Linked DNA regions of Homo sapiens. The protein of the gene in region 4 interacts with the protein of the main gene of each other region in a biochemical or structural test. Each region holds a gene or a part of one and is shown on either strand. Other genes may lie near its edges.

Region 1 (3,500 bases), on a different chromosome or scaffold from region 4:
AGCTAGTTTTTCTAAATGTATACATTGAAGGAATACTGGCTGTGGAAGTATATTTGAGGGTTTTTTGGTTTCTTTACAGTTTGACTGTAATTACAATTTGATAAAATTTCAAATAGCTCTATTGCCCTACTTATAGAGTAATGTAAGAAACAATGTAACTTTTCATTATAAAAATTATTTTGCACTTGCCAAAGGAGATTAAGGAGTTAACTTTTTTTGTTTTAAACATTCCCCCAAAATATTTATCGTTTGGGGGTTGAAAAAAATGCAGCCCATTGAATTGTGAGTTTTAAACTGGAAAGGTCACAGATTAATGGCATACAATTAAACCTGTTTTTTTGTTTGTTTTTCTTCTCAAAATGTTAGCCCTAAACACTGAATTATTTTCAAATTTAGACACCCAGGTGCTTTTTAACTTTTGTACTTTACAGTTACTAACAAGCAGGTTTGCATAAGGCATTTTTGAGAGCCGGACTAGCAGGCCATAGGTAATTCCGTGTTGTCAATACGACTTTCCACACCAGGAGAGGAAACTCCCAGGGCCCAAAGGCTAAAGTGGAATGGTCAAGTCATTTGCCATTGAGTCATAGCCAGACCATCCCTATCTAGCAAGCCATGCCTGCTTCCTGGTTTGTGCATGTTGCCCTGTGTGCTCCTCCTTAGAACTAGAGAGCAGCAATGCCAGTGCCTTCACCAGCAAATCAAGGGATGGTAGGAAGGGATAGGGCTTTAGAGATCATCACTTACTGCCCTCATTTCACAAGAGGAAAAATGCCCAGTGAACTTAAGGAATTTCCTCCAGGTCACCTAAACTAGTTAGGAGCAGACTTAAGCTAGAACCAAGGTCCCCTGGCTCCTTTGCAGTTGGTGTCATTCATTAAAAAGAAGAATAAAAAGAACTCTTTTTTTCTTAAAGCTGTCATCATCTTGTGAAATATCAGTTTGCCCTTGACTAGGAAATTACATCAAATTAAACCATTCAGTCCCCTAGAATAGCAGTAGGGCTGGTTTATTCTGAAAACCTTTGCTGGGTCTTACATGCAGATAACTTGACTTTCCTTCTCTTCTCCTCCTTTCTGTCCTCAGGTGACGGCAATTGCCTCATGCATGCCACTTCTCAGTACATGTGGGGCGTTCAGGACACAGACTTGGTACTGAGGAAGGCGCTGTTCAGCACGCTCAAGGAAACAGACACACGCAACTTTAAATTCCGCTGGCAACTGGAGTCTCTCAAATCTCAGGAATTTGTTGAAACGGGGCTTTGCTATGATACTCGGGTAGGTTTTTCCCCCTAATTATCTACTAACAGAGCTCCATGGTGGGCATAGGGTACCCCTGGGCGAGTCCCTGCCCTCTGGTAGCATCTGATGGACTAGGTCACATGAATTTGGCTAAGCGAAGCATACTCAATGGAAAACACCAGAAACCTCCAGTGGGACTCACCCAAGGCTTTTGCCCTGCTTTTGGTTAGCAGATTCCCAGCTGTGGATCCGTTCCTGTAGCAGCGAGTCTTTTGATCATGGCCTTTTCCACTGGTGTTTTGTTGTTTTTCAGTTTGATTGCCCTTAGCTTTGCTGAGCCAGCCAGTAAGATTAAGACACGTGCCTCACCATCCTCAGTCACAAGTTTGGAATTTTTGTGAACATTTGGATAAGGGGCTGCAATATGATACCTCATCAGGGATTTTTTTTTAAAGCAGGTGCTGTCCCCGTCCTCCCCAACTTTTGAGTTTGCCTTGTAGTGGAAAAAAGTAAAGGAAGAAAACCGAAATGGGGAAAAAAGGGTGATCATTTGAATGATGGTTTCATGAAAGGGGAAAAAATAAGCTGAGTTATATAAATGAATAATTGTAGAGTGATGTCAGAATGACTTTTTAGTACAGGGAGTACAGGATACATTCAAGCTTTTTTTTCACCCCGCTCCCCTTAGAACTGGAATGATGAATGGGACAATCTTATCAAAATGGCTTCCACAGACACACCCATGGCCCGAAGTGGACTTCAGTACAACTCACTGGAAGAAATACACATATTTGTCCTTTGCAACATCCTCAGAAGGCCAATCATTGTCATTTCAGGTGAGATGCCTGCAGATCACGGATCTGTACTTAAATGCTTTCAGCCTTATGCCTTGGCTCCTGGAGAAAACCACACTGCCAAAGTTCAGGTAACAGAGTTCAATGGAATTTGATGAAAGTCACCTAAGGGCCTCATTTTCCTTTCTCTTTCTTTGAACAGACAAAATGCTAAGAAGTTTGGAATCAGGTTCCAATTTCGCCCCTTTGAAAGTGGGTGGAATTTACTTGCCTCTCCACTGGCCTGCCCAGGAATGCTACAGATACCCCATTGTTCTCGGCTATGACAGCCATCATTTTGTACCCTTGGTGACCCTGAAGGACAGTGGGCCTGGTGAGAAAACTGCATTAATTCACATCTATAACTAGACACTGAAACATCAGGGTTTTCCTTTTTGCTTCTTATTAAAACAGTCTTATTTAAGTATATTATTTTTATTTAAATATATTGTTCTGTGACTTGCTTGGTTAGTAAGAGTAATGCAGTAGCAGTAATCATAATACCCTCATATCTTTTTGAATATGACTTGGAAAGTACTTTCATACATGATAAATTAAGGCGCACAGTGCTCTTAATACAGTGCCTGGTATGGAGCAAGTAAACGCCTGTCAGGTTAGTTTTTTTCTTTTTGAGACAGGGTTTCCCTCCATTGTCCAGGCTGGAGTGCAGTGGCACAATCATGGCTCATTGCAGCCTCCACCCCCTGGGCTCAAGCAGTCTCTCGCTTTGGCCTCTCAAATTTACAGGCACGAGCCACCATGCCTGGCCTGTTAGCTGTTATTTTAATAGCCTCATGTGGAATAAGCACTGTGCTTTGGAAATATTATTTTACTGCATTTTTATCCTTTTAGCACTCTTGTGAGATGTAGGCCTTGGTAGCCTTATTTTACATATTAGACAGTTAAAGCTCAGAGAGGTCAACTAACCTGCCTAATGCCACACAGCTTGATAGTGACAAAGCCAGGATTCAAACTCAGGTCAGTCTGATTCTAAAGCCTGGGACTTTAACCAATAAGATCCACCACCTCCAGGCTGGTTAATGTTATGTGAGTTTCCTGGAAACAGTGCATTTTTATATTAGATTGTAGCACATTTTGTTTTCCCATTTGGGTTTAACTGTGGCTAAGAATACTTTTCTATTCTGTAAGTTATATCTTTTATACATTTTCAAAATGAGATCTACTTACCTATGGCCTTGTTTAGTAGAATACTGTTTTACTTATGTATTATTTTTTTCCTTAGAAATCCGAGCTGTTCCACTTGTTAACAGAGACCGGGGAAGATTTGAAGACTTAAAAGTTCACTTTTTGACAGATCCTGAAAATGAGATGAAGGAGAAGCTCTTAAAAGAGTACTTAATGGTGATAGAAATCCCCGTCCAAGGCTGGGACCATGGCACAACTCATCTCATCAATGCCGCAAAGT
Region 2 (3,500 bases), on a different chromosome or scaffold from region 4:
GGTTATTTTCAATTTCTTGTTACCTTTTTCCAGGAAACGCTATATTTTATGGTAATTATATTGTGTTGTAGAAAAATCACTAGTGTGTCCTCCAACATACTTGAAAAATACCTACTGTTTTCAATATTTTCTCATTTAAAAATTTATTATAATTTAGTCTTTTAGAAATATACCAGGCCAGGCATGGCGTCTCATGCCTGTTATCCTAGTACTTTGGAAGGCTGAGGCAGGAGGATCACTTCAGTCTTGGGGTTTGAGACCAGCCCGGGAAACATAACAAGACCCCATCTCTACAAAAAAAAAAAATTTGTTTTTTAATTAGGCATGTCCGGACACAGTGGCTCACACATGTGGCCAGCACTGTGGGAGGCCAAGGTGGGTGGATCACTTGAGGTCAGGAGTTCAAGACCAGCCTGGCCAATGTGGTGAAACCCCATCTCTACTAAAAATACAAAAATTTGCCAGGTGTGGTGGCGCATGCCTGTATTCCCAGCTACTCAGGAGGCTAAGGCAGGAAAATCACTTGAACTCGGGAGGCAGAGGTTGCAGTGAGCTGTGATCATGCCACTGTACTCCAGCCTGGGTGACAGAGCGAGACTCCGTCTCAAAAAAAAAAAAAAAAGATTAGGCATGGTGGCACACGCCTGTAGTCCCTAGCTACTCAGGAGGCTGAGGTGGGAGGATTGCTTGAGCCCAGGTGTTGGAGGCTGCAGTGAGCCATGATTATACCACTGTAGTCCAGCCTGGACAACAGAACGAGACCCTGTCTCTAAAAGTATATATGTACACATACCATAATACCCAGCTACTGAGGAGGCTGAGGCAGAAAGAGTGCTTGAGTCCAGGAGTTTGATGTCAGCCTGAGCAATATAGCAAGACCCTCACCTCTTAAAAAAAAAAAAAGTAGATTAAAAAAATACCACAATTGCTCAGGTAGATTGAAAAACAGGCATATAGTACTTATGGTACAGGACCAGCATGCATGCATGCATGCATTGATTGATTGATTGATTGATTGATTGAGACAGGGTCTCTCTCTGTCTCCCAGGCTGGAGTGCCTGGCCTTAAGTGATCTGCCCACCTTTGCTTCCCAAAGTGCTGAGATTACAGGTGTGAGCCACCATGTCAGCTGGCGAGGCTTTTTAAAAGATAGTTCCAAGTGTTACAGCTCTTTTAGGATTTGTCTAGCAGGCTTTCAGGTTTTTGCCAGAAACCACCCCCACCCCCACCCCCACCAAAAAAAAAAAAAAAAAAAAAAGATAGTTACAAATGTTTCCCAGAATAGTTGTCCCAATCGAATCTATTTTCTCATGTGTAGTGTATGGTTGTTTTCCTGTCACCACATTGCTGATTATTATTATTTTTAATTATAGAGACAGTAAAGTACAGTAGTTAAAAATGTGAGTTGGGGCTGGGTGCAGTGGCTCACACCTGTAATCCCAGCACTTTGGGAGGCCAAGGTGGGCGGATCACCTGAGGTCAGGAGTTCAAGACCAGCTTGGCCAACATGGCAAAACCCCGTCTCTACTAAAAATATATATATATAAGTTAGCCGGGCGTGGTGGCACATACCTGTAATCCCAGCTACTCGGGAGGCCAAGGCAGGAGAATCTCTTGAATCCAGGAGGTGGAGGTTGCAGTGAGCCAAGATCACACCATTGCACTCCAGCCTGGATGACAAGAGAGTGAGACTGTCTAAAAAAAAAAAACAAAGTGTGAGTTGTACAATGAGACTGCCTGGGATCACATACAAGCTTCATCCCTTACTAGTTGTATGACCTTAAGCAAGTCACTTAACCTTTCTGTGCCTCAGTTTTATCATCTGTAATGTGGGGAAAATAATAGTACCTGCCTCAGAGGGTTGTTTTGAGGATTAAATGCATTAATATGTGGAAAGGGCTTAATATAAGTTGTACATAGCATATGAAAACTGTTATGTTAAATCTATTAGCAGTTTTATATGTGAAAATAGCTTTGATTTTCATTTCTTGGATTATGAATCATGTTGAATAATCCTTTATATGCTTCCTGGATTCTTTTTTTTTCTTCCCCCCAGTCAGTTTCTGACTCTTCACATATTTACAGAGAGATCTTGGAACCTGGATGGGGGAATCCAGGAAACTCATGGATTCCTTCTTCCTGAATTTTATCACCCAGGTTCACAGCTGGAGCAAAGCTGTTGTTTCACCTGAGGCAGCTGCTGAAGGAGCTGAAGGGACTGAGTTGCCTGGTTAGCTATCAGGATGACCCTCTGACCAAAGGGGTGGACCTACGCAACGCCCAGGTCACAGAGTTGCTACAGCGTCTGCTCCACAGGTCTAGAGGCCAGGCAGGAACCCTGGGGGAAAGAAGGAACAAGGGAAGCCATTCTTACAGATACTGAGCTATATATTCTCTCCACACCTCTCTCTCCTCAGAGCCTTTGTGGTAGAAACCCAGCCCTGCATGCCCCAAACTCCCCATCGACCCCTCATCCTCAAGACTGGCAGCAAGTTCACCGTCCGAACAAGGTTGGCATTCCAGAACTCATTCCCACTTCCTTTTTCCAACCCTGCCACTGTGTATTTTCTGGCTTTACAGCTCTTCCCACTCTTGGCTTTTTCTTCTCTTTCCCTGCAATCTCCCTACCTCTTATAATCCCTCTTCTCTTTTTCAAACATCTAGTCTATCCGGAAGGTTGAGGTTGACCACTTTCCCCTATCCCCCTTCCTTCCCCCAGGCTGCTGGTGAGACTCCAGGAAGGCAATGAGTCACTGACTGTGGAAGTCTCCATTGACAGGTAAATTGGAGCAGGTGAAGGGTGGCCAGGACACGGGCTGCTGGGGTGGAGGAGATACTCACTCTTCACAACAGGGCCCTAGGGCTATCTCCTTCCTCCTTCCAATCCTACCTCACAGAAATTATAATTCATTTCTTTTGTTGAACACTTACTTTGTGACATGCAGCATGTCAGCTACTCATTTAATTGTCACACCAACCCCATGAATAAACTATTACCAGTGCACTGTACAAACAAAGATACAGGCTTAGAGAGACTGATTACATCTCTTCTCAAGGCCACATAGCTAGTGAGCTCAAGTCGGGTTTGAACCGAGGTCTGTCTGATCCCAAAGACGAAACTCCTAACTTCCATACTCTTTTGCCCAATGATTTTTTTAAATTTATTTCTTTTCAGGAATCCTCCTCAATTACAAGGGTAGGTGCTTGACAAGGACACTGCAAACATCTGTACAGTGTATGACCTGCAGAACCACATTCGGCAGCCCTGGTGGCACAAACAAGGAAGAGGGGGATTTGGGATATGGACAAAGGGAGATGGCGAGATCTGAAATGAAGTGGAACTTCTGTTTTTTTTTTTCTGCTGAGTTTTTAGAATAATTCCATTCCTTGTCTCCATGTATCTTCCTCCTGGAACAGCTTCCGGAAGTTCAACATTCTGACTTCAAACCAGAAAACTTTGACCCCCGAGAAGGGGCAGAGTCAGGGTTTGATTTGGGACT
Region 3 (2,782 bases), on a different chromosome or scaffold from region 4:
CGATGTTAAAACAAATTAAAAACACCTAAGTGACTACCACTTATTTCTAAATCCTCACTATTTTTTTGTTGCTGTTGTTCAGAAGTTGTTAGTGATTTGCTATCATATATTATAAGATTTTTAGGTGTCTTTTAATGATACTGTCTAAGAATAATGACGTATTGTGAAATTTGTTAATATATATAATACTTAAAAATATGTGAGCATGAAACTATGCACCTATAAATACTAAATATGAAATTTTACCATTTTGCGATGTGTTTTATTCACTTGTGTTTGTATATAAATGGTGAGAATTAAAATAAAACGTTATCTCATTGCAAAAATATTTTATTTTTATCCCATCTCACTTTAATAATAAAAATCATGCTTATAAGCAACATGAATTAAGAACTGACACAAAGGACAAAAATATAAAGTTATTAATAGCCATTTGAAGAAGGAGGAATTTTAGAAGAGGTAGAGAAAATGGAACATTAACCCTACACTCGGAATTCCCTGAAGCAACACTGCCAGAAGTGTGTTTTGGTATGCACTGGTTCCTTAAGTGGCTGTGATTAATTATTGAAAGTGGGGTGTTGAAGACCCCAACTACTATTGTAGAGTGGTCTATTTCTCCCTTCAATCCTGTCAATGTTTGCTTTACGTATTTTGGGGAACTGTTGTTTGATGTGTATGTGTTTATAATTGTTATACATTTTTAATTGAGCCTTTTATTAACATATATTGTTATTTTTGTCTCGAAATAATTTTTTAGTTAAAATCTATTTTGTCTGATATTGGTGTGAATGCTGTACCTTTCTGACAATAAATAATATTCGACCATGAATAAAAAAAAAAAAAAAGTGGGTTCCCGGGAACTAAGCAGTGTAGAAGATGATTTTGACTACACCCTCCTTAGAGAGCCATAAGACACATTAGCACATATTAGCACATTCAAGGCTCTGAGAGAATGTGGTTAACTTTGTTTAACTCAGCATTCCTCACTTTTTTTTTTTAATCATCAGAAATTCTCTCTCTCTCTCTCTCTTTTTCTCTCGCTCTCTTTTTTTTTTTTTTTTTACAGGAAATGCCTTTAAACATCGTTGGAACTACCAGAGTCACCTTAAAGGAGATCAATTCTCTAGACTGATAAAAATTTCATGGCCTCCTTTAAATGTTGCCAAATATATGAATTCTAGGATTTTTCCTTAGGAAAGGTTTTTCTCTTTCAGGGAAGATCTATTAACTCCCCATGGGTGCTGAAAATAAACTTGATGGTGAAAAACTCTGTATAAATTAATTTAAAAATTATTTGGTTTCTCTTTTTAATTATTCTGGGGCATAGTCATTTCTAAAAGTCACTAGTAGAAAGTATAATTTCAAGACAGAATATTCTAGACATGCTAGCAGTTTATATGTATTCATGAGTAATGTGATATATATTGGGCGCTGGTGAGGAAGGAAGGAGGAATGAGTGACTATAAGGATGGTTACCATAGAAACTTCCTTTTTTACCTAATTGAAGAGAGACTACTACAGAGTGCTAAGCTGCATGTGTCATCTTACACTAGAGAGAAATGGTAAGTTTCTTGTTTTATTTAAGTTATGTTTAAGCAAGGAAAGGATTTGTTATTGAACAGTATATTTCAGGAAGGTTAGAAAGTGGCGGTTAGGATATATTTTAAATCTACCTAAAGCAGCATATTTTAAAAATTTAAAAGTATTGGTATTAAATTAAGAAATAGAGGACAGAACTAGACTGATAGCAGTGACCTAGAACAATTTGAGATTAGGAAAGTTGTGACCATGAATTTAAGGATTTATGTGGATACAAATTCTCCTTTAAAGTGTTTCTTCCCTTAATATTTATCTGACGGTAATTTTTGAGCAGTGAATTACTTTATATATCTTAATAGTTTATTTGGGACCAAACACTTAAACAAAAAGTTCTTTAAGTCATATAAGCCTTTTCAGGAAGCTTGTCTCATATTCACTCCCGAGACATTCACCTGCCAAGTGGCCTGAGGATCAATCCAGTCCTAGGTTTATTTTGCAGACTTACATTCTCCCAAGTTATTCAGCCTCATATGACTCCACGGTCGGCTTTACCAAAACAGTTCAGAGTGCACTTTGGCACACAATTGGGAACAGAACAATCTAATGTGTGGTTTGGTATTCCAAGTGGGGTCTTTTTCAGAATCTCTGCACTAGTGTGAGATGCAAACATGTTTCCTCATCTTTCTGGCTTATCCAGTATGTAGCTATTTGTGACATAATAAATATATACATATATGAAAATATGTATTTGGTTTCTGCCTCCAGTTCTTACAAAGAGCTCCTAAAACCCTTGTAATTTCCTGAGTAGTAGGGGTGCTAGGGTCATCTTTTGTTCTAATATTTGGTCTTTGACTCTGCTTTCTGACAGAGCTCCTTAGTCCCTGGGTGAGAGTAGCATCTTCTCTTCTAATGAAGTGACTCTTGCTGGGTTCCTGGATGGGGGCTGGTCACCAGAAAGGTCAAGCCATGATAAGAAGCTTGAAGCTTTTGGCCCCATTCACATCTTCTGGGGACGGGAGAGAAGAGGAGCTGGAGATTGAGTTAATAAGCAACAATGCTTCCATGATGAAGACTCCATAAAAATCCCTAAAAGACAGGATTCAGAGTGCTTTGAAATAGGTGAACATGCAGAGGTGCTGGGAATTGTGGTGTGTCCAGAGAAGGCATGCAAGCTCCCCACGCCTCCCCCATACCTTTCCCTGTGCATCTCTTCCATCTGGCTGTTCCTGAGTTGTATCCTTTT
Region 4 (3,500 bases):
ATTTTCTTTTTCATATATGATTCAAATGATGTGAATCTTATAAAATCATTTGATACTGTGAAAGGATAGCAGTCTAAGTTCTTTAAGGTTTAGATTTAAAGAATTTCTGCTTTTTATTTTTATTTTTTTTCTGTTAGTGCAAAGCAGCTGGTCCGAGGAGAACCCAATGTTTCGTATATCTGTTCTCGGTACTATAGGGCACCAGAGTTGATCTTTGGAGCCACTGATTATACCTCTAGTATAGGTAAGTACAAATCTGAATATAATGCTCATAATTATTAATTGCTTCTTGATTTTGGTAATTTAGTACTACTAATCTGTACTTTTATTTCCATGGAAAGATGGATATATCCCATAATGTTTTTTTTCTTAAAGCTTGAGATGCAAACATGTATAGGCATACCTCATTTTATTATACTTTCCAGGCACTGCTTTTTTTTTTTTAACCTCTCAAAGGTTTGTGTCAACCCTGAGTCAAGCAAGTCTGCCCACACTAGTTTTATAAGAGCATGTGCTCACTTCATGTCTTTGTGTCATCATGTCTTTGTGTCACATTTTGGTAATTATTGCAACATTTCAAACATTCTCATTGTATCTGCTATGGTGATCTATGATCAGTGGTCTTTGATGTTACTATTGTAATTGTTTTGGTTTGCCACAAACCACAACAATATAAGACAGCAAACTTAATCGATCGGTGTTGTGTATGTTATGAATATTCCACCAGCTGGCCATTCCCCATCTCTCTTCCTATCCTCAGGCCTCCCTATTCCCTGAGAGACAACAATATTGAAATTAGGCCAATTAATAACTCTGCAGTTGCCTCTAAGTGTTCAAGTGAAAGGTACATTTTTCACTTTTAATCAAAAGCTAGAAATGATTAAGCTGAGCAAGGAAGGCATATCGAAATTGTGCCACACAGTTAGCCAAGTTGTGACCAGAAAGGAAAAGTTCTTAAAGGAAATTAAAGTGCTACTCCAATGAACAGATGAATGATAAGAAAGTGAAACAGCCTTATTGCTGTTACAGGGAAAGTTTTAGTGGTTTGGATAGATCAAACCAACCACAACATTCACTTGAGCCAAAGCCTAACCCAGCAAGGCCTGAACTCCCTTCAATTCTGTGAAGACAGAGAGGTGAGGAAGCTACACAAGAAAAATCTGAAGGTAGCAGAGGTTATTTCATGAGGATTAAGGGTAAAAAGCTGCACCATGCCATAAAAGTGCAAGGCAAGCAGCAAGTGCTGATGTAGAAGCTGCAGCAAGTTATCCAGAAGATCTAACTAAGATCATCGATGAAGGTGGCTACATTAAACATCAGAGTTTTAATGGAGACCAAATAGCCTTCTACTGAATTGGAAGAAGATACCGTTTAGGACTTTCATCTCTAGATTTTCTAGAGATGGAAGACTTCTTCTAGAGAGGAGAAGTGTCATTGCCTGGCTTCAAAGCTTCTAAGGACAGGTTGACTCTCTTGTGAGGGCCTAATGTAGCTGGTGACTTTTAAGTGCAAGCCACTGCTCATTTACCATTCCAGAAATCCTAGGGCCCTTAAGAATGATGCTGAATGTATTCTGCCTGTGCTGCATAAATGGAGCAACAATGAGTGGATGATAGCACATCTGTTTATAGCATGGTTCACTGAATATTTGAAGCCCACTGCTGAGACCTACTACTCCAGAGAAGAGTATTTCTTTCAAAATATTACTGCTTATGGACAGTGCAACTGGTCACCCAAAGGTTGAGAAATACATTTGTAAGGCTATAGCTGCCCTAGATAGTGATTAGTCTGATGGATCTGGGCAAAGTCAATTTTAAATCTTCTGGAAAGGATTCACCATTCTAGGTGTCACTAAGAACATTTGTGACTCAATCACATGAACAACATTTTGGAAGAAGTTGATTCCAAGCCTCATGGGTGACCTTGAGGCATTCTAGACTTCAGTGAAGGAAGTCTCTGCAGATGTTGTGGAACTAGCAAGAGAACTAGAATTAGAAGTGGAGCCTGAAGATGTGACTGAACTGCTGCAATCTCATGATGAAACATAAACAAGTTGCTTCTTTTATGGATGAGCAAAGAAAGTGGTTTCTTGAGGTGGAATCTACTAGTGGTTAAGACGCTGTGAATATTGTTGAAATGACAACAAAGGATTTAGAATATTACATAATTGTAGTTGATAAAGCAGCAGCAGGGGTTGAGAGGACTGACTCCCATTTTGAAAGTGGTTCTAATGTGGGTAAAATGCTATCAAAGAGCATCTCCTACTAGAGAAAAATCTTTCATGAAGGGAAGAGTCAGTTGATGTGGCAAACTTCATTGTCACTTTAAGAAATTACTCCAGCCACATCGTATAGCCTTCAGCAACTGCCACCCTGATCAGTCAGCAGCCATCGACATCAAGGCAAGACCCTCTGCCAGCAAAAAGATTACAACTCACTGAAGGCTTAGATGATCATTAGCATTTTTTTTTAGTAATAAAGTGTGTTTAAGTTAATGTATTACATTTATGTTTTTATACAATTCTATTATACAAGTAATAGACTACAGTATAGAGTGAACATACCTTTTATATGCACTGGGATACCAGAAAATTGGTGAGACTTGCTTTATTGTGTCTTATTGTTATGGTCTGGAACCAGTTCTGCAACATCTCTGACGTATGCCTGTATAGAATTTTTCAAATTCTACTTTTTAGAATTTAAGGTATACCTACTATTCTATTTTTCTTCCTTGGACTGTTAGAATCATAAAGCTAATAGCTTTTACCTTAAGAATTTAAATTAATTCTAAGTAACTTTTTTTTACTTTCTTATTTAAAATCCTCCTGAAATACTTCTGAGCATGATTATACTAGTTGGATAATTTATTAATTAATGTTATTTCATTAAGTTAATAATGAAAGTGATAGTATGGCCATATTGCTAACATTTCCTTCATGCCATCTCCATTATTTAATATAAAATCAGCTTAAATCACTAGTAGTTTTGCTAGATGCACTGATTCTGCAGAAGTATGCACCCAAGATGTTTAGTCATAGAAGGAACTGAATAGAGACCATTAGCTTTAATCATCATTGACCTTCTCAAGTCTTCACCCCAGATGTTTAGTGATAGGAGGAACTGAATAGAGACCATTAGCTTTAATCATCATTGACCTTCTCAAGTCTTCACCCCAGATGTTTAGTGATAGGAGGAACTGAATAGAGACCATTAGCTTTAATCATCATTGACCTTCTCAAGTCTTCACCCAAGATGTTTAGTGATAGAAGGAACTGAATAGAGACCATTAGCTTTAATCATCATTGACCTTCTCAAGTCGTCACCCAAGATGTTTAGTGATAGAAGGAACTGAATAGAGACCATTAGCTTTAATCATTATTGACCTTCTCTTTTACTACATCTTAGCCCACTAGCCAGGAGTGAACAGAGAGAGCATGATCAGCTGGACATGAATAGGAAGCTAACAAACAAGGAGCAACTTTAAGCTGGATGTGCAAGTGG
Region 5 (3,500 bases), on a different chromosome or scaffold from region 4:
ACTTGCAGGCACCCCTGGACGGCTGCCCCCAGCTCCCCAACTGCCTGCATTCTCCCCTGCCCTCCTCACTCTGTTGGAATAGCTGAGAATAGCCGATTTCTGGGCAGCCGGCCTCCTGTGTAGACTGTCCTGTGTAGACTGTCCTGTGTAGATTGTCTGTGTAGACTGTCCTGTGTAGATTGTCTGTGTAGACTGTCCTGTGTAGACTGTCCATGTAAACTGTCCTGTGTAGATTGTCTGTGTAGACTGTCCTGTGTAGACTGTCCTGTGTAGATTGTCTGTGTAGACTGTCTCTGTAGACCGTCGTGTATAGACTGTCCTGTGTAGACTGTCTCTGTAGACCGTCGTGTATAGACTGTCCTGTGTAGACTGTCTCTGTAGACCGTCCTGTGTAGATTGTCTGTGTAGACCATCCTGTGTAGACCATCCCATTTAGACCATCTGCCTGTGCAGGCGCAGGCCAGTGTTCAGCAGGGCCACAGGCTCCTCGGCCTCCCTGCCCTCGCTGCTCCCCAACACTGCCAACCCTGCTGCGGGGTCCAGGAGGAGATGGGCTGAGGATCGTGGAGACCAGCAGGAGCGTGTGGCCCAGGAGCAGGGAACTGGGTGTCCTTGGGCCTTGCCAGGTCCAGGCTCAGCTAGGACACGGCTCTCACAGCTGTCCTGGTTGCCTCCGGCCACAGAAGAAGGTGAGGGCTCCAGAGAGGCCACCTTTCCAAAAAAAGCACAGTCATGGCCCTAGAATGTAAAAAATCCAAGTGTTAAGAAGGAACACATCAAAGGAAACTTCAGCAGTGAAAACTTGAAGCATTAACCACGAAGCCTCTGCCTCCACCACACACAAAGAAACGGCTTTAGTTACTCGCAGAAAGTCTTCCTCTTAGGACAGCGCGTGTTTAAAATCATAGGGGTTTGGTTTGTTTTGTTTTGGGGTTGGGGTTTTTTGGGGGTTTTTTACCCTTGCCTACTTTTTAAAAAATGAAAGTGTTTATTTGCCCAACAATAACAGACAGGGAGCTTGCCTAAGTGTTCTGTTGATGATATAATGTATCTTGTCTTAGAAAAAAACTTTTTCAGTGAAAGGTGGTTTTTAAATTTTTTCTTCCCTCCTTAGTAGCTTGATTAGTAAAATGTGAAGTTACAAATGTGAAGCAAACCCCCACCCTTCACCACTAGTCAGCAATTTTGAGTAAAGAAACAAAGCATCAGGTGCTCACAGCACACACTGTCTTAGAGGGAAGGGGAAGCCTGGTGGCCTGTGGAAGCCTTCAGCATAGCTCCATCTGCAGGCTTCTGACCCTCAGCACTACTGACACTTGGGCTGGATCATTGTCTGCTAGGGATCCGGGCAGGGAGTGGCTGTGCTGGGCGCTGTAGGAAGTTTAGCAGCATCTCTGGCCTCTATCCACCAGATGCCAGTAGCACCCCCTCCCCAGATGTGGCAGTCAGATGTGTTTCTGTCTAGACTCCAGACTTTGTCCAACGTCCCCTGGTAGGCCAAATTGCCCCCGGTTGAGAACCACCGCTCTAGATGGTATTGAGGGTTGGGAATTTTAAATCAAGACATTTATTCAGAAATTACCAGATATAGTAGCATTTGCTTCTTATTTATTTCTTTGTTGCTAAGTGTTTGGCAAAACCTCTTTGCTGTGAGCACAAGGTTTGCTTTAGCAATTGTTGTCACATTACAGCAAGGAGTGGTGTCCAGCGCTGTAGTTATGTATTTGAGCAGTGTCCAGTGCTGTAGTTATGTGTTCCAGCCTCACCAGGCCCTGTGCTTCATTGTCTCCCACTCAAGACTGACCACAAATGGCCCACAGATCCACTGTGACAACCTTTCCCTTTGGGTTACTGTGGTGGCATCGAGAACATGGCTGGTTGGCTTTGCTGTAGTTTACTGTGATAACTGTGCCAGCAGTCCCTGCTTTCCTTTGTTAAGTATCCCATTCCACTGGAGGATTACTTGGGCGTGCAGATTGGCATGAAAAGCAATGTATGGTTTGAGATTGTTAAAGTTTCTTTGGGATCAACATTTTCAATTCTGTATCAGCATTATCCCTCCCAGAGGGCTGGCTGGGAGAAATCATGAGAAGTTACAGTATCTTATTTGCTCAGCTAATCTAATTATAAATGATCCACACAGCTTGTGGTAAAACCAGCTTTTGGGGAGTTTTCATTTAATGCATACTTGTCTTCTGATTTCCTTCCTTCACCAAATAGTGTAGGATGCTCCCTCTTATTTTTGGCAAACATGCCTGTTATCTTTTGGGACCCTGGGCTTCCTGGAAACCAGTTATGCAGAAGATGATTGTGTGTGTTAGACTGGGGTCATCCAGATGGCTAGAGTTCTCACTGGTTCTGTTTAAGGATTGACTTTAGACACCTCAGTGTAGGCTGCACCATGGCGTAAGGGTTGGGATTGTTGTTTAGAAGGGGGAAGTAAGCAAGGTGAGTTTAATTGGCCATTGCAGAATCTCACCCGTATCTCCCTCCTGAAATCCTCACTAAAGCTGCCGTTTGCTTTCAGGTGCTTTCATGCACAAGACACTGCATTTTGTATCACAGGGTCCATATAATTCATTTTTCTCTCGTACTTAGTTCTCTGTGTTAAGAATTACTTACTTAGTTCTCTGTGTTAATAATTTTTGGCGAAACCAAATTACCCGTCACAGGGTTACTGTAGATGTCTTTCATAGGTTTTCCAAACACCACTTGCCCACTTGTTTGGGAAGGCCCCAAGGACTGTTTAACATCTGCCTTCATGGTGGAAACAGCAACTATGAGAGATGCTAGCATGTTGGCACTGCCATGTTCCTCTGGTACCAGCCCAAGATAGGACTCAATTTGAGGCCTGGTGAAGTACTGTGTTCTAATAAAAATCCATCTACTTTTCATGGCCGTATATATCAATGTAATAGGGTAACTGGAAATGTGATCTTGTGCCTTTTAAAAATTTTGTGTGTTTAAAACAAAAATTTCTATTGGAAATGACAGAGCATAGCTTGTTGCTGTAGACACCTGAGAGTCCTTAAAAATAAATATTGGGTTATTGACACTTAGTTGCATGACAGAATTCCTCACTTGTACAGTTCCAAAGTCTTAGTCTTTACCCAGATTACAGAGGGTTATTAAGCATTAGGTTTGGTTTTGAAAGTGAGTGCTTGCTGTCTGGAGGTGAGCTTTAAGACTCGTCTGCCCTGCTTATGAGATGAGGAAGGGTGGCCTCTTCCTCCTGCATTTCTGTTCTTCGCTTCCTTCTCTGTCTGCTCACTCTGTGGAATGCCCACCCCAGCACGGGTGGGGTGGAACCTGTCAGATCAGTCTCTTGTTTCTGGGGTCTTGAGGCATTATAAGATCTAGTTGTTAGAAGTGTGGGATTAATTCATCTTTTCACATTCTTCTAAGTTCCTGCTTTTAGCTGCCACACCCACTTTGGCTAAGTGGGGGTCTTGCCATGTAATTAGCGCCTCCATGCCAAGTGGCAGAATTGCTTCAATGGT
Region 6 (3,500 bases), on a different chromosome or scaffold from region 4:
GAAGGGCCTGTCTGCATGCCAGGGGGCTGAGTTCCATGTTGTAGGGGGTGCGGTGGGGTGGCACCAAGGGACATAGGCAGGTTAGATGTACTTTTTAGGAGGAAGGGGTCAGAGACCAAGGGCAATGGCTGTGAGCATGGGGCCGAGGTCACCTGACGATGGTGGCCTGACCCCTGCGGTGGAGGAGAGGCAGGAATGGAGCTACAAGAGTGGGTCCAGGAGGTGTCCTCACCTGCGGGGAGGCCGAGAGCTCCTCGTAGGCATAGGGCACACCTGACCAGCAGAACCCACAGCTGTGCCGCAGAAGGAGATAGAAGCCCCGTGGTGGTTTGATAGAGCTGGGGCTGGCTGGGGTGGCGGGTTTGTTGTATGCATTTTTTACTGCACGTAAAAGGCTTTACTGGGGAAGAATAGATTTCCTCTCTTTTTCCTGGAAGAGCCGAATGACTTAGACAATGGAATAGAAATGTAGGTCGAGCGTGTTCATGGAAGTGTTAAGATCTTCCTGGTTACAAGGGCACACACCTGAGGGGGAGTCACTTTGTTTGAAGCACCTGAGCGAGGCTGTTCGCTTTGTCCATTCTGGCTTTTGTTGCTTGTTAAATGAGGCTCCTTCTGTTGCAGAGGTGACCACAGTGACAGTGGCCAACGTGGGGGCTGCTGCAGACAATGTCTTCACCACGTCTGTGGCGAACGCGGCATCCATCTCAGGACATGTTCTGGTAAGCTGCTCCGAGGGGCACAGCCCAGGGCGGGTGGTGCCACGCTGGGGGCCTCCGGCTTCCCCGAGGCTCTCCCGGGGTTCAGCCCGCTGTGTGAACGTCTGCTCTGTGAGCTGGGGAGGGACGCACTGGCTCGCTCTGCTCTCAGAGGCCTTCGGGCTGTGCTGGAGGTGGGAGAAATTACAGCTGAGGTAGAAGCTGCCTCGGAAGGCCAGGTGAAGAGCCACACCTGTCAGATGGGCTTGTGGCCTGCGTTGGGCAGGGACTCCCAGCAGGCTGCTGTCCGGCCACAGTTCAGCCTCTGCCCGAGGCCCGGCCCTGCCTGTGCTCCTTATCCTATAGCTGCAGGGCCAGCTGAAAGAAGCAAGGCGTTTCCCTCCCCCATATCCTGTTCTCGTAGCATTTATGGTGCAGTCTCCCACGCCTGACTGCTGTCTACTTAGAAAACTGCTGAAAGCCAGTTGCATTTCAAATAGTGTCTGTGCCACCTTCAGAGCCCTTTTGTGATCATGTTTTATCAGCTTATTTTATGTTTTATGTGTGGGGCCTTCGGCGATCTGGGGACATCTGGTCAACCAGGGCAGGCAACCTTGTTTCCAAGTGGCAGATGCCAGGGTGGGTCCAGTCTCCAGAAAGGGATTTTCCCTGGGACCATTGGCACCTGTTACTTGTAGTCTTTTCAGCCTTGGTCACATACCTGGGACATCATCTCCATATACCTGAAAGCAGAGTGGTTATTTGTTTGTTTTGTTTTTGAGACGGGGTCTTGCTCTGTCACCTAGACTGGAGTGCAGTGGTGCAATCTCGGCTCATTGCAACCTCCGCCTCCTGGGTTCAAGCCATTCTTGTGCCTCAGCCTCCTGAGTAGCTGGGATTACAGGCGTGTGCCACCATGCCAGGCTAATTTTTGTATTTTTAGTAGAGACAGGTCACCATGTTGTCCAGGCTGGCCTCAAACTCCTGACCTCAGGTGCCCGCCTTGACCTCCCAAAGTGCTGGGATTATAAGGATTATAGGTGTGAGCCACCACACCCGGCCTGAAAGCACAGTTATTGTTAGAATGGCAGCAAACAGAAAACTTGTGAAGGACTTCAGTAAAAACATAAGAAACTTGGAAACCCCCTCCCCTGCCCTCCCCTCCCCTGCCCTCCCCTCCCCTGCCCTCCCCTCCCCTGCCCTCCCCTGCCCTCTCCTCCCCTCCCCTCCCCTGCCCTCCCCTGCCCTCCCCTGCCCTGCCCTCCCCTCCCCTCCTCTCCCCTCCCCTCCCCTTCCTTTTTGACAGAGTCTTTCTCTGTTGCCCAAACTGGAGTGCAGTGGAGTGATCTCAACTCACTGCAACCTCCACCTCCTGGGTTCCCCATGTTGTCCAGGTAGTCTCAAACTCCTGACCTCAGGTAGCTACCATCTCGGCCTCCCAATGTGCTGGGATTACAGGCATGAGCCACCGCACCCAGCCCAGAAACTTGGCTTATTTCTGGTGGGTGTGAGAACACACACAAGCTGACCCATGGCCACGTGGCGATCTGTGTTTTCAGTCAGGCTGCTCCTTCCTGGCAGTGGGGTCTGGGCACCTCCTCATTTCCTAGGAGGGGCTGAAGCCCAAGGCACCTGTGGGTGCCTGGAACGTGCTGACGTCATGGAGCGGGGGTGTCCTGCAAGTGCCTGAGGCTGGTTTTCTCCCCTCCAGGCCAGGAAGACCAGAGACTGGTGTGTTCCTGTTTGGAAACTGACAACAAAGCGGGGCACGGTCTGAAATAACTGTGTGTTCCCTTCCTAAGAAAAATACTCTGTGACTCTTAAACAAACACAAGACATTCCTTTTCTCCAGTGAAGAGCTGCAGGTCTTTGGTGACTCAGGCACAGCAGTAGGACCCCCTGTGTGAGCCCAGGCGTCAGGCATGTGTGTTGGGGGTCCCTCCACTCCATGATAAACTTCTACTCAAGTGCTCTGATTTGACAGTGACATTTTCAGATGTAGGAAACAGTTGTCAGCTGGGCGCGGTGGCTCCTGCCTGTAATCCCAGCACTCTGGGAGGCCGAGATGGGCAGATCATGAGGTCAGAAGATGGAGACCATCCTGGCTAACACGGTGAAACCCCATCTCTACTAAAAAAAAAAATGCAAAAAATTAGCCTGGTGTGGTGGTGGGCGTGTGTAGTCCCAGCTACTTAGGAGGCTGAGGCAGGACAATAGCGTGAACCCGGGAGGCGGAGCTTGCAGTGAGCCGAGATGGCGCCACTGCACTCCAGCCTGGGTGACAGAACGAGTCTCCGTCTCAAAAAAAAAAAAAAAAAAAAAGAAAAAGAAAAAAAGAAACAGTTGTTTTCTCACTTTGCCTCGGTTGGTTTTGTATTCAGAATGAAAACCTTGGGGCACCCAAAACACGGGGTTCAGAGAGGCCCCTGGAAGTCTCTGGTCTGCCCCACCGTGGGGTGAACAGAGCCTGCAGGCCAGAGTTTGCCGGATGACTTGGCCAAGGTAGGGTTCAAGTTCCAGCAGTGGTGTGTGGGCATGGAGACTCTGGCTTCCTGTGGCGGGGTCTGTGCCGCCTGAAGGCTGATTTTGGAAGCAGGCAGCAGTTGCAGCAGCTTCAGCCAGTGTGGAAATGTGGTTTTGAGGCCCTGGTCTCCAGTTGCCATCTGTAAGGAGGTCTGGAGGGCGGTCCTGCACAAGGCCTTGTCTGTGGCGGCCAACTCGGTCTGTTGGAAACTCTGCATGAAGACGGTGACCTTGTGGGAGCGGCTCAGGTGGAAGGGAGGGTGTTTCTTGTTTGTGGAG
Region 7 (3,500 bases), on a different chromosome or scaffold from region 4:
TGTCTCTACCCAAAAAAAAAAATTAGCTGGGTGTGGTGATGCGTGCCTGTGGTTCTAGCTACTTGGGAGGCTGAGGCGGGAGGATCACTCGAGCCCAGGAAGTTGAGGCTGCACTCCAGCCTGTCTCAGAAAAAAAGAAAAATGTAAATGAAAAATATTGGCAAATATGTCCCTAAAACTTACTTATATCATCATTGATTATATATAACGTTCTAATTTCAGAGATGTTAATGTATGAAAAAATGTGTGTCCTAGATTCAATGAAATAAACTATGCCTTGAGTGTAGAGGGTAGATTGAGATGGCGTTATAGGTTTGGGCATTATCGATATATGATGTGGAAATGAATGAGATCACCCAGGGAGAAGAGATCTAAGATTAGCACTTGGAGAAACATTAACATTTTATGTAGTGAGCAAAGCTCCAAGGAGGTATTTGAAAAGAAGGGACTAACTTAAGGAAGTGTAAGAACCCAGAAGCAACAGAATGAAAGGATTTCAGTAACGTAGAGCAATTAATAGTGTTAAAAGTGCCATACAGGATGTATGTGTGTTCATTTTAAAGCTTGGAATCAGATTATAGAACCTCTTCTAGATGTTTGAAGGAAGTGGGTGGTTTTTGCTTTTTTCGCATTAATTGTAAATGATTTTACATGGCAGTATAACATACTAAGCAAATTATACCAAATTAGTCTATATGTCTTCAGTCTTGCTAATTTTAAATTTAAAATGTTATTGCCCACTTGTTTGTGGCAAAGGAGAAATAAAGGAATAGAATAAACTAACGTCAGTGTTTTTGTCTGTCAACTGTCTTTCAGTTTTTTATGAGAATAATCTTAGGGTGCCTTAAGTATTCTTGCATCAATGTGCCTAATTTTATCAATGAGAAAAGTAATCCAGATAATTTACGTGATTTCCTCTTAAGTTTACACATTTAGCTAATGACAAATGCAGGAATTAAATATATTTTCTCATCCAGGTGTCCGTCAGATCTCCCATGCTGTTTCTTCCTCCTTAAATTGAAGGTGATTACTTACGGAAATTTGGTTAAATGATTTGATAACTATGCTTTGTAGCATAGAGAGAAATAAACAGCTAGTTTAGGTAATTAGTTGTGAATATAAGAGAATACAGCAAATACTGGAAAAATGGATAATTTTTTTTAAAATATAGAAAATGTCATATATATTTTTTGATTCCTTTAATTTTTAGGATATGGTATGCTTTTTTTTCTTCCATTAGCAGTCTGAAAATATAAATATGTGTGAATACCAGTTTTATTGAAAATATTGAGAGTAGCTTCATATTTTAGAGTTATATAATGTTCTGTTTATTTTTTTTTTTAATAGAAAAAATGAATGCACCAAATCAGCCTCCACATAAAGACACTGGAAAAACAGTGGAGAATGTGGAAGAATACAGCTATAAGCAGGAGAAAAAGATCCGAGCAGCTCTTAGAACAACAGAGCGTGATCGTAAAAAAAATGTACAGTGCTCATTCATGTTAGACTCAGTGGGTGGATCTTTGCCAAAAAAATCAATTCCAGATGTGGATCTCAATAAGCCTTACCTCAGCCTTGGCTGTAGCAATGCTAAGCTTCCAGTATCTGTGCCCATGCCTATAGCCAGACCTGCACGCCAGACTTCTAGGACTGACTGTCCAGCAGATCGTTTAAAGTTTTTTGAAACTTTACGACTTTTGCTAAAGCTTACCTCAGTCTCAAAGAAAAAAGACAGGGAGCAAAGAGGACAAGAAAATACGTCTGGTTTCTGGCTTAACCGATCTAACGAACTGATCTGGTTAGAGCTACAAGCCTGGCATGCAGGACGGACAATTAACGACCAGGACTTCTTTTTATATACAGCCCGTCAAGCCATCCCAGATATTATTAATGAAATCCTTACTTTCAAAGTCGACTATGGGAGCTTCGCCTTTGTTAGAGATAGAGCTGGTTTTAATGGTACTTCAGTAGAAGGGCAGTGCAAAGCCACTCCTGGAACAAAGATTGTAGGTTACTCAACACATCATGAGCATCTCCAACGCCAGAGGGTCTCATTTGAGCAGGTAAAACGGATAATGGAGCTGCTAGAGTACATAGAAGCACTTTATCCATCATTGCAGGCTCTTCAGAAGGACTATGAAAAATATGCTGCAAAAGACTTCCAGGACAGGGTGCAGGCACTCTGTTTGTGGTTAAACATCACAAAAGACTTAAATCAGAAATTAAGGATTATGGGCACTGTTTTGGGCATCAAGAATTTATCAGACATTGGCTGGCCAGTGTTTGAAATCCCTTCCCCTCGACCATCCAAAGGTAATGAGCCGGAGTATGAGGGTGATGACACAGAAGGAGAATTAAAGGAGTTGGAAAGTAGTACGGATGAGAGTGAAGAAGAACAAATCTCTGATCCTAGGGTACCGGAAATCAGACAGCCCATAGATAACAGCTTCGACATCCAGTCGCGGGACTGCATATCCAAGAAGCTTGAGAGGCTCGAATCTGAGGATGATTCTCTTGGCTGGGGAGCACCAGACTGGAGCACAGAAGCAGGCTTTAGTAGACATTGTCTGACTTCTATTTATAGACCATTTGTAGACAAAGCACTGAAGCAGATGGGGTTAAGAAAGTTAATTTTAAGACTTCACAAGCTAATGGATGGTTCCTTGCAAAGGGCACGTATAGCATTGGTAAAGAACGATCGTCCAGTGGAGGTAGGTTTCCAGTAGGTATTAATACAATGATATCCTTAGTTCCATTTATTTATTGCAAATTATAATGTTGGTGTTATGTACTTTCATATTCTAATATTTTTGAACACAAATGGCAGTTATAAATTGCACATTTAAGCATTTCTGTAAAGTACTATGATTAAATAGATCTATGAAAACTGCATGAAATTTAGTGAATTAAGTGCAGGGTGGTATGTGGAGGGAATAAGTTCAACCACGTAAATACAGGATGGCAAAGGACAGGCTGGGTATAAACAAAAATGGAAGGAAGAAAGCCATAGTCATGGATGACCACAAGCTGCATGTGAGTCAGGAAAAAAGTCCACGTCACACTCAGGTGTTTATAAATGAATAGGGCGCCCAAGGTCAAGGAGAGAGTTCTTTCTCTATCCTTTGAAGTTGTTTTCTCTCTTTTGATTAGCATGTCAAGTTTTGGTCACTGTATTTTAAAGAGATGTAAATTATAGAGAAATGTCAGAATGATCAAGGGGAAAAAGCCAACACTATCTCGCAAGGTTAAAGTGTTCGGTGCAGGTGATGAAAGTTTAAGGGAAGTCCTGATTTTTGTCAGATATGTGTTTCGATATGTGTAGATTTTTGTGAGAGGAATGTGCCCACTAGAGGAAGTGACTTGAAAACAGTATAGATTTGCTTTTGATAGCTTGACGTGTTATAAATTCCTTATTGTAAAGGGTGGTAATACTAGACAAGGGCATTTTGTGGGATATCATTCTTGAGAGTCCAAAATAGTACTGTACAAGTGATTTTGCT

Evidence for each region.
Region 1: the proteins of GSK3B (region 4) and TNFAIP3 form a complex in vitro, tested with the Homo sapiens proteins (one study listed by BioGRID).
Region 2: of the proteins of GSK3B (region 4) and STAT2, one has a biochemical effect on the other in vitro, tested with the Homo sapiens proteins (one study listed by BioGRID).
Region 3: the proteins of GSK3B (region 4) and SNCA form a complex in vitro, tested with the Homo sapiens proteins (one study listed by BioGRID and IntAct).
Region 5: of the proteins of GSK3B (region 4) and PTPN1, one has a biochemical effect on the other in vitro, tested with the Homo sapiens proteins (one study listed by BioGRID and IntAct).
Region 6: of the proteins of GSK3B (region 4) and DEAF1, one has a biochemical effect on the other in vitro, tested with the Homo sapiens proteins (one large-scale study listed by BioGRID).
Region 7: of the proteins of GSK3B (region 4) and MAP3K4, one has a biochemical effect on the other in vitro, tested with the Homo sapiens proteins (one study listed by BioGRID).

The regions. Positions count from the first base shown.
Region 1 is NC_000006.12:137,873,759-137,877,258, forward strand, and holds part of TNFAIP3 (tumor necrosis factor alpha-induced protein 3), read left to right. Parts: intron 1-1,086; coding exon 1,087-1,277; intron 1,278-1,929; coding exon 1,930-2,077; intron 2,078-2,237; coding exon 2,238-2,408; intron 2,409-3,317; coding exon 3,318-3,498; intron 3,499-3,500. UniProt on the Homo sapiens protein: Ubiquitin-editing enzyme that contains both ubiquitin ligase and deubiquitinase activities.
Region 2 is NC_000012.12:56,350,108-56,353,607, reverse strand, and holds part of STAT2 (signal transducer and activator of transcription 2), read left to right. Parts: intron 1-2,157; coding exon 2,158-2,316; intron 2,317-2,417; coding exon 2,418-2,510; intron 2,511-2,719; coding exon 2,720-2,779; intron 2,780-3,175; coding exon 3,176-3,196; intron 3,197-3,417; coding exon 3,418-3,500. UniProt on the Homo sapiens protein: Signal transducer and activator of transcription that mediates signaling by type I interferons (IFN-alpha and IFN-beta).
Region 3 is NC_000004.12:89,723,599-89,726,380, reverse strand, and holds the end of SNCA (alpha-synuclein), read left to right. Parts: 3' UTR 1-2,282; downstream 2,283-2,782. UniProt on the Homo sapiens protein: Neuronal protein that plays several roles in synaptic activity such as regulation of synaptic vesicle trafficking and subsequent neurotransmitter release.
Region 4 is NC_000003.12:119,909,448-119,912,947, reverse strand, and holds part of GSK3B (glycogen synthase kinase-3 beta), read left to right. Parts: intron 1-137; coding exon 138-244; intron 245-3,500. UniProt on the Homo sapiens protein: Constitutively active protein kinase that acts as a negative regulator in the hormonal control of glucose homeostasis, Wnt signaling and regulation of transcription factors and microtubules, by phosphorylating and inactivating glycogen synthase (GYS1 or GYS2), EIF2B, CTNNB1/beta-catenin, APC, AXIN1, DPYSL2/CRMP2, JUN, NFATC1/NFATC, MAPT/TAU and MACF1.
Region 5 is NC_000020.11:50,569,383-50,572,882, forward strand, and holds part of PTPN1 (tyrosine-protein phosphatase non-receptor type 1), read left to right. Parts: intron 1-3,500. UniProt on the Homo sapiens protein: Tyrosine-protein phosphatase which acts as a regulator of endoplasmic reticulum unfolded protein response. Mediates dephosphorylation of EIF2AK3/PERK; inactivating the protein kinase activity of EIF2AK3/PERK.
Region 6 is NC_000011.10:688,723-692,222, reverse strand, and holds part of DEAF1 (deformed epidermal autoregulatory factor 1 homolog), read left to right. Parts: intron 1-624; coding exon 625-722; intron 723-3,500. UniProt on the Homo sapiens protein: Transcription factor that binds to sequence with multiple copies of 5'-TTC[CG]G-3' present in its own promoter and that of the HNRPA2B1 gene. Down-regulates transcription of these genes.
Region 7 is NC_000006.12:161,047,269-161,050,768, forward strand, and holds part of MAP3K4 (mitogen-activated protein kinase kinase kinase 4), read left to right. Parts: intron 1-1,347; coding exon 1,348-2,711; intron 2,712-3,500. UniProt on the Homo sapiens protein: Component of a protein kinase signal transduction cascade. Activates the CSBP2, P38 and JNK MAPK pathways, but not the ERK pathway. Specifically phosphorylates and activates MAP2K4 and MAP2K6.